2 linked regions of the Homo sapiens genome follow. The protein of the gene in region 2 interacts with the protein of the main gene of each other region in a pairwise test. Each region holds a gene or a part of one and is shown on either strand. Other genes may lie near its edges.

Region 1 (3,500 bases), on a different chromosome or scaffold from region 2:
AGCCAAGGCAACACAGTGAGACTCTGTCTAAAAAAAAAAAAAATTTAGTATAGTGCCTGGCACACAATAGGTAATTTTTGTACTTACTAGTCTTATTGTTTACTTTTTATTACAGATTTTGAGATCAGGAGTGAGAACGAGGTAAATCCCAAGCAAGAGATTAGTGAAGATGTACAATTTGGGACTACATCTGAAAGACCTGCTGAGAATGCTGAGGAAAATCCTGAAAGTGAAGAGGGCTTTGAAAGCGGAGATAGGTCAGAAAGACAATGGGGAGATTTAACAGCAGAAGAGTGGGTAAGCTATCCTCTCCAACCAGTCACTGATCTACTTGTCCACAAAGAAGTCCACACAGGCATCCGCTATCATATATGTTCTCATTGTGGAAAGGCCTTCAGTCAGATCTCAGACCTTAATCGACATCAGAAGACCCACACTGGAGACAGACCCTATAAATGTTATGAATGTGGAAAAGGCTTCAGTCGCAGCTCACACCTTATTCAGCATCAAAGAACACATACTGGGGAGAGGCCTTATGACTGTAACGAGTGTGGGAAAAGTTTTGGAAGAAGTTCTCACCTGATTCAGCATCAGACAATCCACACTGGAGAGAAGCCTCACAAATGTAATGAGTGTGGAAAAAGTTTCTGCCGTCTCTCTCACCTAATCCAACACCAAAGGACCCACAGTGGTGAGAAACCCTATGAGTGTGAGGAGTGTGGGAAAAGCTTCAGCCGGAGCTCTCACCTAGCTCAGCACCAGAGGACCCACACGGGTGAGAAACCTTATGAATGTAACGAATGTGGCCGAGGCTTCAGTGAGAGATCTGATCTCATCAAACACTATCGAGTCCACACAGGGGAGAGGCCCTACAAGTGTGATGAGTGTGGGAAGAATTTCAGTCAGAACTCCGACCTTGTGCGTCATCGCAGAGCCCACACGGGAGAGAAGCCATACCACTGTAACGAATGTGGGGAAAATTTCAGCCGCATCTCACACTTGGTTCAGCACCAGAGAACTCACACTGGAGAGAAGCCATATGAATGCAATGCTTGTGGGAAAAGCTTCAGCCGGAGCTCTCATCTCATCACACACCAGAAAATTCACACTGGAGAGAAGCCTTATGAGTGTAATGAGTGTTGGCGAAGCTTTGGTGAAAGGTCAGATCTAATTAAACATCAGAGAACCCACACAGGGGAGAAGCCCTACGAGTGTGTGCAGTGTGGGAAAGGTTTCACCCAGAGCTCCAACCTCATCACACATCAAAGAGTTCACACGGGAGAGAAACCTTATGAATGTACCGAATGTGAGAAGAGTTTCAGCAGGAGCTCAGCTCTTATTAAACATAAGAGAGTTCATACGGACTAAGCTGTAATTATGATGGCTGAGAAATGATTCATTTGAAGATACAATTTTATTTGATATCAATGAACGCCCTCAAGACTGAGCTGCTTTTATCATACTCTCCTAGTTGTGGGCCACGATTTAAACCATCAGAGATGACAAGCCATTTGAAATTCTGACCCTCAGCTTTGGGAATGTTATCTCCTCCAAAATGGTGATTTTTATTCACTCAATGGGTTACTTCATTAAAAGCAGCCCCACAAGTAACTGGAAATCTGAAGACCAGGGGACAAATGCTGGTGAATGCTTAGGCCTGGAAATGGAGTAAATCTTTCAATGTTATTTTCTCCCATCCTTGGCCCAAGGAACTATGCTAAGTGAAACGTGGGACTGTAATAGGGTGGTAATGGCTGCTTTGGAAAAAGGCAACTAGAGACTCTGCCTAAATTGCCACACCTATTCACACACCATAGTAGTTGGGCACACACATCTTCCCTTCCAAAGGGCTTTTTCCTTGAGTTGCTCATGCATTTGTATCTTTTCCATCTTCCTGAGGGCAAGATTTTGCACGATGAAGGCAATGATTGTAACTTTTCTCCTTCTCATTGTTTCTAATTAGCTCCTTTAAAGCTTGCATCTTTGTGAAGGCTAACTGAAGATACGGTTGGAAAGGAAAAATGAGACACAGGTTTGGGGACCAAGGACCCATCAATGATGGTGACTTTAGCAGAAGATGCCCACAGTTATTACTGCCATTAATCAGATTTATGAATTTTCTTTGGGGATCACTATAGGGAATATTGTATAGAAAATATCTTCAAGAAAAGATAGGACCATCAGTGACAGTTAAGTGTAAGGAGCAAGTGGAATTGAGTCCTTCAGGGAAGGAACCACAGAGTCCCTTCCCAAGGAATGTAGGTCGTTTCTGTGTTCTTTCCCTTCTAATCTTTAAGATCAACTCTTCCTATCCTGCTAACTCTAAGATTTGATAAGGGCCACATCCCAGTGTTTATCTTAGCTTGCATCAGGGCATGTGTATGTACAGTAATGTGTATTCCTGTGGTTTTTCTAATAGAAACTGAATTTACAGAGACTTAGCATGTTCTTGGGTGATGTGAGTCATGTGACAGAAGTACAGACATAACTCCAATGTGAGAAATGTCCTTTTTTCATTATGGAAAATAATTTAAACACTAGTGCTTTAGTGTGCACTCTCCTGTAAGGTCTGTCTTTGTACAGAGCTAAGCACTTGTTTGTATGTGTTTGTCAATTGTGGAAGATAATGACCAGACAAATAGGTCGATTGTCCTATTCTCAGAATGAATTATCTTCTATGGTAATGAAGAACTCTTTGGCTTAGTCAGAAGGAATTAACGAACCTCGGTAGGAATGTATTTCCATCCTCCCACCCTACAGATATAAGAGGTTAAAATAACAGTTCGCCCAATTTAAGCCCAGTAGTGTCAGTTTTCCTAATCTCAGTCCAGGTAGGAATTAAGAAATATCTCAAGTGTTGATGCTATCCAAGCATGTTGGGGTGGAAGGGAATTGGTGCCCAGAAAATGGGACTGGAGTGAGGAATATCTTTTCTTTTGAGAGTACCCCCAGTTTATTTCTACTGTGCTTTATTGCTACTGTTCTTTATTGTGAATGTTGTAACATTTTAAAAATGTTTTGCCATAGCTTTTTAGGACTTGGTGTTAAAGGAGCCAGTGGTCTCTCTGGGTGGGTACTATAATGAGTTATTGTGACCCACAGCTGTGTGGGACCACATCACTTGTTAATAACACAACCTTTAAAGTAACCCATCTTCCAGGGGGGTTCCTTCATGTTGCCACTCCTTTTTAAGGACAAACTCAGGCAAGGAGCATGTTTTTTTGTTATTTACAAAATCTAGCAGACTGTGGGTATCCATATTTTAATTGTCGGGTGACACATGTTCTTGGTAACTAAACTCAAATATGTCTTTTCTCATATATGTTGCTGATGGTTTTAATAAATGTCAAAGTTCTCCTGTTGCTTCTGTGAGCCACTATGGGTATCAGCTTGGGAGTGGCCATAGATGACCGCATTTCCATGACCTAACTGTATTTCACCCCCTTTTCCTTCCCTACTGTTCTTGCCCCACCCCAACCAGTTCCTGCTGCTGCTTTTGG
Region 2 (3,500 bases):
GTGCTGGGATTACAGGTGTGAGCCACCATGCCTGGCTAGAATAATAACTTTTAAAGGTTCTTAGCATGCTCTGAAATCAACTGCATTAGGTTTATTTATAGTTTTATAGTTATTTTAAATAAAATGCATATTTGTCATATTTCTCTGTATTTTGCTGTTGAGAAAGGAGGTATTCACTAATTTTGAGTAACAAACACTGCTCACAAAGTTTGGATTTTGGCAGTTCTGTTCACGTGCTTCAGCCAAAAAATCCTCTTCTCAAAGTAAGATTGATGAAAGCAATTTAGAAAGTATCTGTTCTGTTTTTATGGCTCTTGCTCTTTGGTGTGGAACTGTGGTGTCACGCCATGCATGGGCCTCAGTTTATGAGTGTTTGTGCTCTGCTCAGCATACAGGATGCAGGAGTTCCTTATGGGGCTGGCTGCAGGCTCAGCAAATCTAGCATGCTTGGGAGGGTCCTCACAGTAATTAGGAGGCAATTAATACTTGCTTCTGGCAGTTTCTTATTCTCCTTCAGATTCCTATCTGGTGTTTCCCTGACTTTATTCATTCATCAGTAAATATTTACTAAACATGTACTATGTGCCTGGCACTGTTATAGGTGCAGGGCTCAGCAGTGAGCAGACAAAGCTCTGCCCTCGTGAAGCTTTCATTCTAATGAAGGACATAGACAGTAAGCAAGATAGATAAGTAAAATATACAGTACGTTAATACGTGGAGGAACTTCAAAGCAGGGAAGGGGATAGGGAAATGTCAGGGTTAATCGAGTGTTAACTTATTTTTATTTTTAAAAAAATTGTTAAGGGCTTTCCAGCAAAACCCAGAAAGCCTGCTAGACAAATTCCAAAAGAGCTGTAGCACTAAGTGTTGACATTTTTATTTTATTTTGTTTTGTTTTGTTTTTTTTGAGACAGTTCTTGCTCTATCAGCCAGGCTGGAGTGCACTAGTGTGATCTTGGCTCACTGCAACCTCTGCCTCTTGGGTTCAAGTGATTCTCATGCCTCAGCCTCCTGTTTAGCTGGGATTATAGACATGCACTGCCATGCCTGGGTAATTTTTTTTTTTTCCCCCGAGACGGAGTCTTGCTCTGTCGCCCAGGCTGGAGTGCAGTGGCGCGATCTCAGCTCACTGCAAGCTCCGCTTCCCGAGTTCACGCCATTCTCCTGCCTCAGTCTCCCAAGTAGCTGGGACTACAGGCGCCTGCCACCACGTCCAGCTAATTTTTTTGTATTTTTAATAGAGACGGGGTTTCACCGTGTTAGCCAGGATGATCTTGATCTCCTGACCTCGTCATCCGCCGACCTTGTGATCCGCCCACCTCGGCCTCCCAAAGTGCTGGGATTACAGGCATGAGCCACTGTGCCCGGCCACGCCTGGGTAATTTTTGTATTTTTAGTAGAGATGGGGTTTTGCCATGATGAGCAGGCTGGTCTCGAACTCCCGGCCTCATGTGATCTGCCTGCCTTGGCCTCCCAAAGTGCTAGGATTACAGGCATGAGCCACCATACCTGGCCAGTGTTGATATTTTAAATACGGTGTTCAGGGAAGGTCCACTGAGAAGACAGCTTTTTTTTTTTTTTTTTTTGGGGTTGGGGGGCAAGGTCTTGCTCTTTAACCCAGGCTGGAATGCAGTATCACTATCGTAGCTCACTTCAGCCTTGAACTCCTGGGCTCAAGTGATCCTCCCACCTCAACCTCACAATGTGTTGGGACTATAGGTGTGAGCCATCACACCTGGCCAGATGATGGCTTTTGAGTAAAGACCTCAAGCGAGTTAAGAGTCTAGTGTAAGGGTGTATGAAGTAGTGGTATTCCAGATGGGGGGAACAGGTCCAAAATCTTCCTGTTTCAGGAATAGCAAGGATGTCATTTTAGTTGGGTGAATTGAGTGAGGGGGACATTTGTAGTAAGAAGTAAGGTCCAAGAGGTCAAGGGAGTGCCATATCAGACCAATACTACTTGCCTTGTAGATGGAATAAAGATATTGGCATTTATGTGAGTGAGATGGGATGTCACTGGAGGATTAGAGCAGAGGAGTAGCATGATCTGAATTTCAATCTTAAGTGAACTCTGGCTGACAACAGAGTGAAGGGGAACACCGGCAAAAGCAGAAACCAGTTAGGAAGCCACTGCAGTGCTCAGATAAGCATGGTGGGTTCTGTCAGGGTACCGGCTGTCGGCTGTGGGCAGTGTGAGGAATGACTGACTGGATTTTGAATGCGGAACCAACTGCACTTGTTGAACTCTGCTAAGTATAACAATTTAGCAGTAGCTTGCGTTATCAGGTTTGTATTCAGCTGCAAGTAACAGAAAATCCTGCTGCAATAGCTTAAACTGGTAACAAGCAAGAGCTTATCAGAAGACAAAAATAAGTCTGGGGAAATTCAACAATAAGTTAAGGAACCCAGGCTCTTTCTTTTTTTTTTTTTTGAAACGGAGTTTCGCTCTTGTCACCCGGGCTGGAGTGCAATGATGTGATCTCAGCTCACTAAAACCTCTACCTCCTGGGTTCAAGTGATTCTTCTGCCTCAGCCTCCCAAGTAACTGGGATTACAGGCGTATACCACCATGCCCAGCTAATTTTTGTGTTTTTAGTAGAGATGGGGTTTCACCATGTTGGCCAGGCTGGTCTCGAACTTCTGACCTCAGGTGATCCACTCGCCTCAGCCTGCCAAAGTGCTGGGATTACAGGTTTGGGCCACTGCACCCGGTCAGAACCCAGGCTCTTTCTTATACTTACCTTGCAAACCCTTGTTCTCATTTTTTCCCTTTGTATTTTTATTGTTGAATTGTAATAGTTCTTTATATATTCTGGATACTGGATTCTTATCAGATAGATGATTTGTAAAAACTCTCCCTTCCTTTGGATTGTCTTTTTACTTTCTTGATAGTGTCTTTTGAAGTGTAAAAGTTTTTAATTTTGATGAAGTCGAGTTTATCTATTTTGTCTTTGGTTGCTGTGCTTCAAGTGTCATATCTAAGAAATCATTGTCTAATCCAAAGTCAAAAAGGTTTACTCCTATGTTTTCTTCTAAGAATTTTAGAGTTTTACATTTAAGTCTGATCCATTTTGAGTTAATTTTTATATATGGTTCAGGTAGAAGTCCAACTTTATTCTTTTCCATGTGGTTATTCAGTTGTCCCAGCACTGTTTGTTGAAGAGACTATTCTTTCCCCATGGAATTATCTTAGTACCCTTGTTGAAAATTAATCGTCCTTAATTGTATAAATTTATTTCTAGACTGTCAGTTCTACCTGTTGGTCTTTATGTCGATCCTGTGCCAGTACCATACAGTCTTGATTACTGAAGTTTGTGTCACAGTTTAAATTCATGAAATGTGAGTTCTCCAACTTTGTTCCTTTTCAAGATTGATTTGGCCATGCTGGGTCCCTTGCATTTCCGTACGAATTGTAGGATCAGCTTGTCAGTTTCAACAAAGAAGCCAAGTAGGATTCTGAGAGGGATTGTGTTGAATCTGTAGATCAACTTGGGGAGTAT

What was found. Proteins that work in one complex are often made in the same cells at the same time.
Region 1: the proteins of HTT (region 2) and ZNF436 interact in binary tests that used the Homo sapiens proteins (3 or more experiments, as listed by UniProt).

Annotation. Positions count from the first base shown.
Region 1 is NC_000001.11:23,359,837-23,363,336, reverse strand, and holds part of ZNF436 (zinc finger protein 436), read left to right. Parts: intron 1-115; coding exon 116-1,368; 3' UTR 1,369-3,500. UniProt on the Homo sapiens protein: May be a transcriptional repressor.
Region 2 is NC_000004.12:3,077,681-3,081,180, forward strand, and holds part of HTT (huntingtin), read left to right. Parts: intron 1-3,500.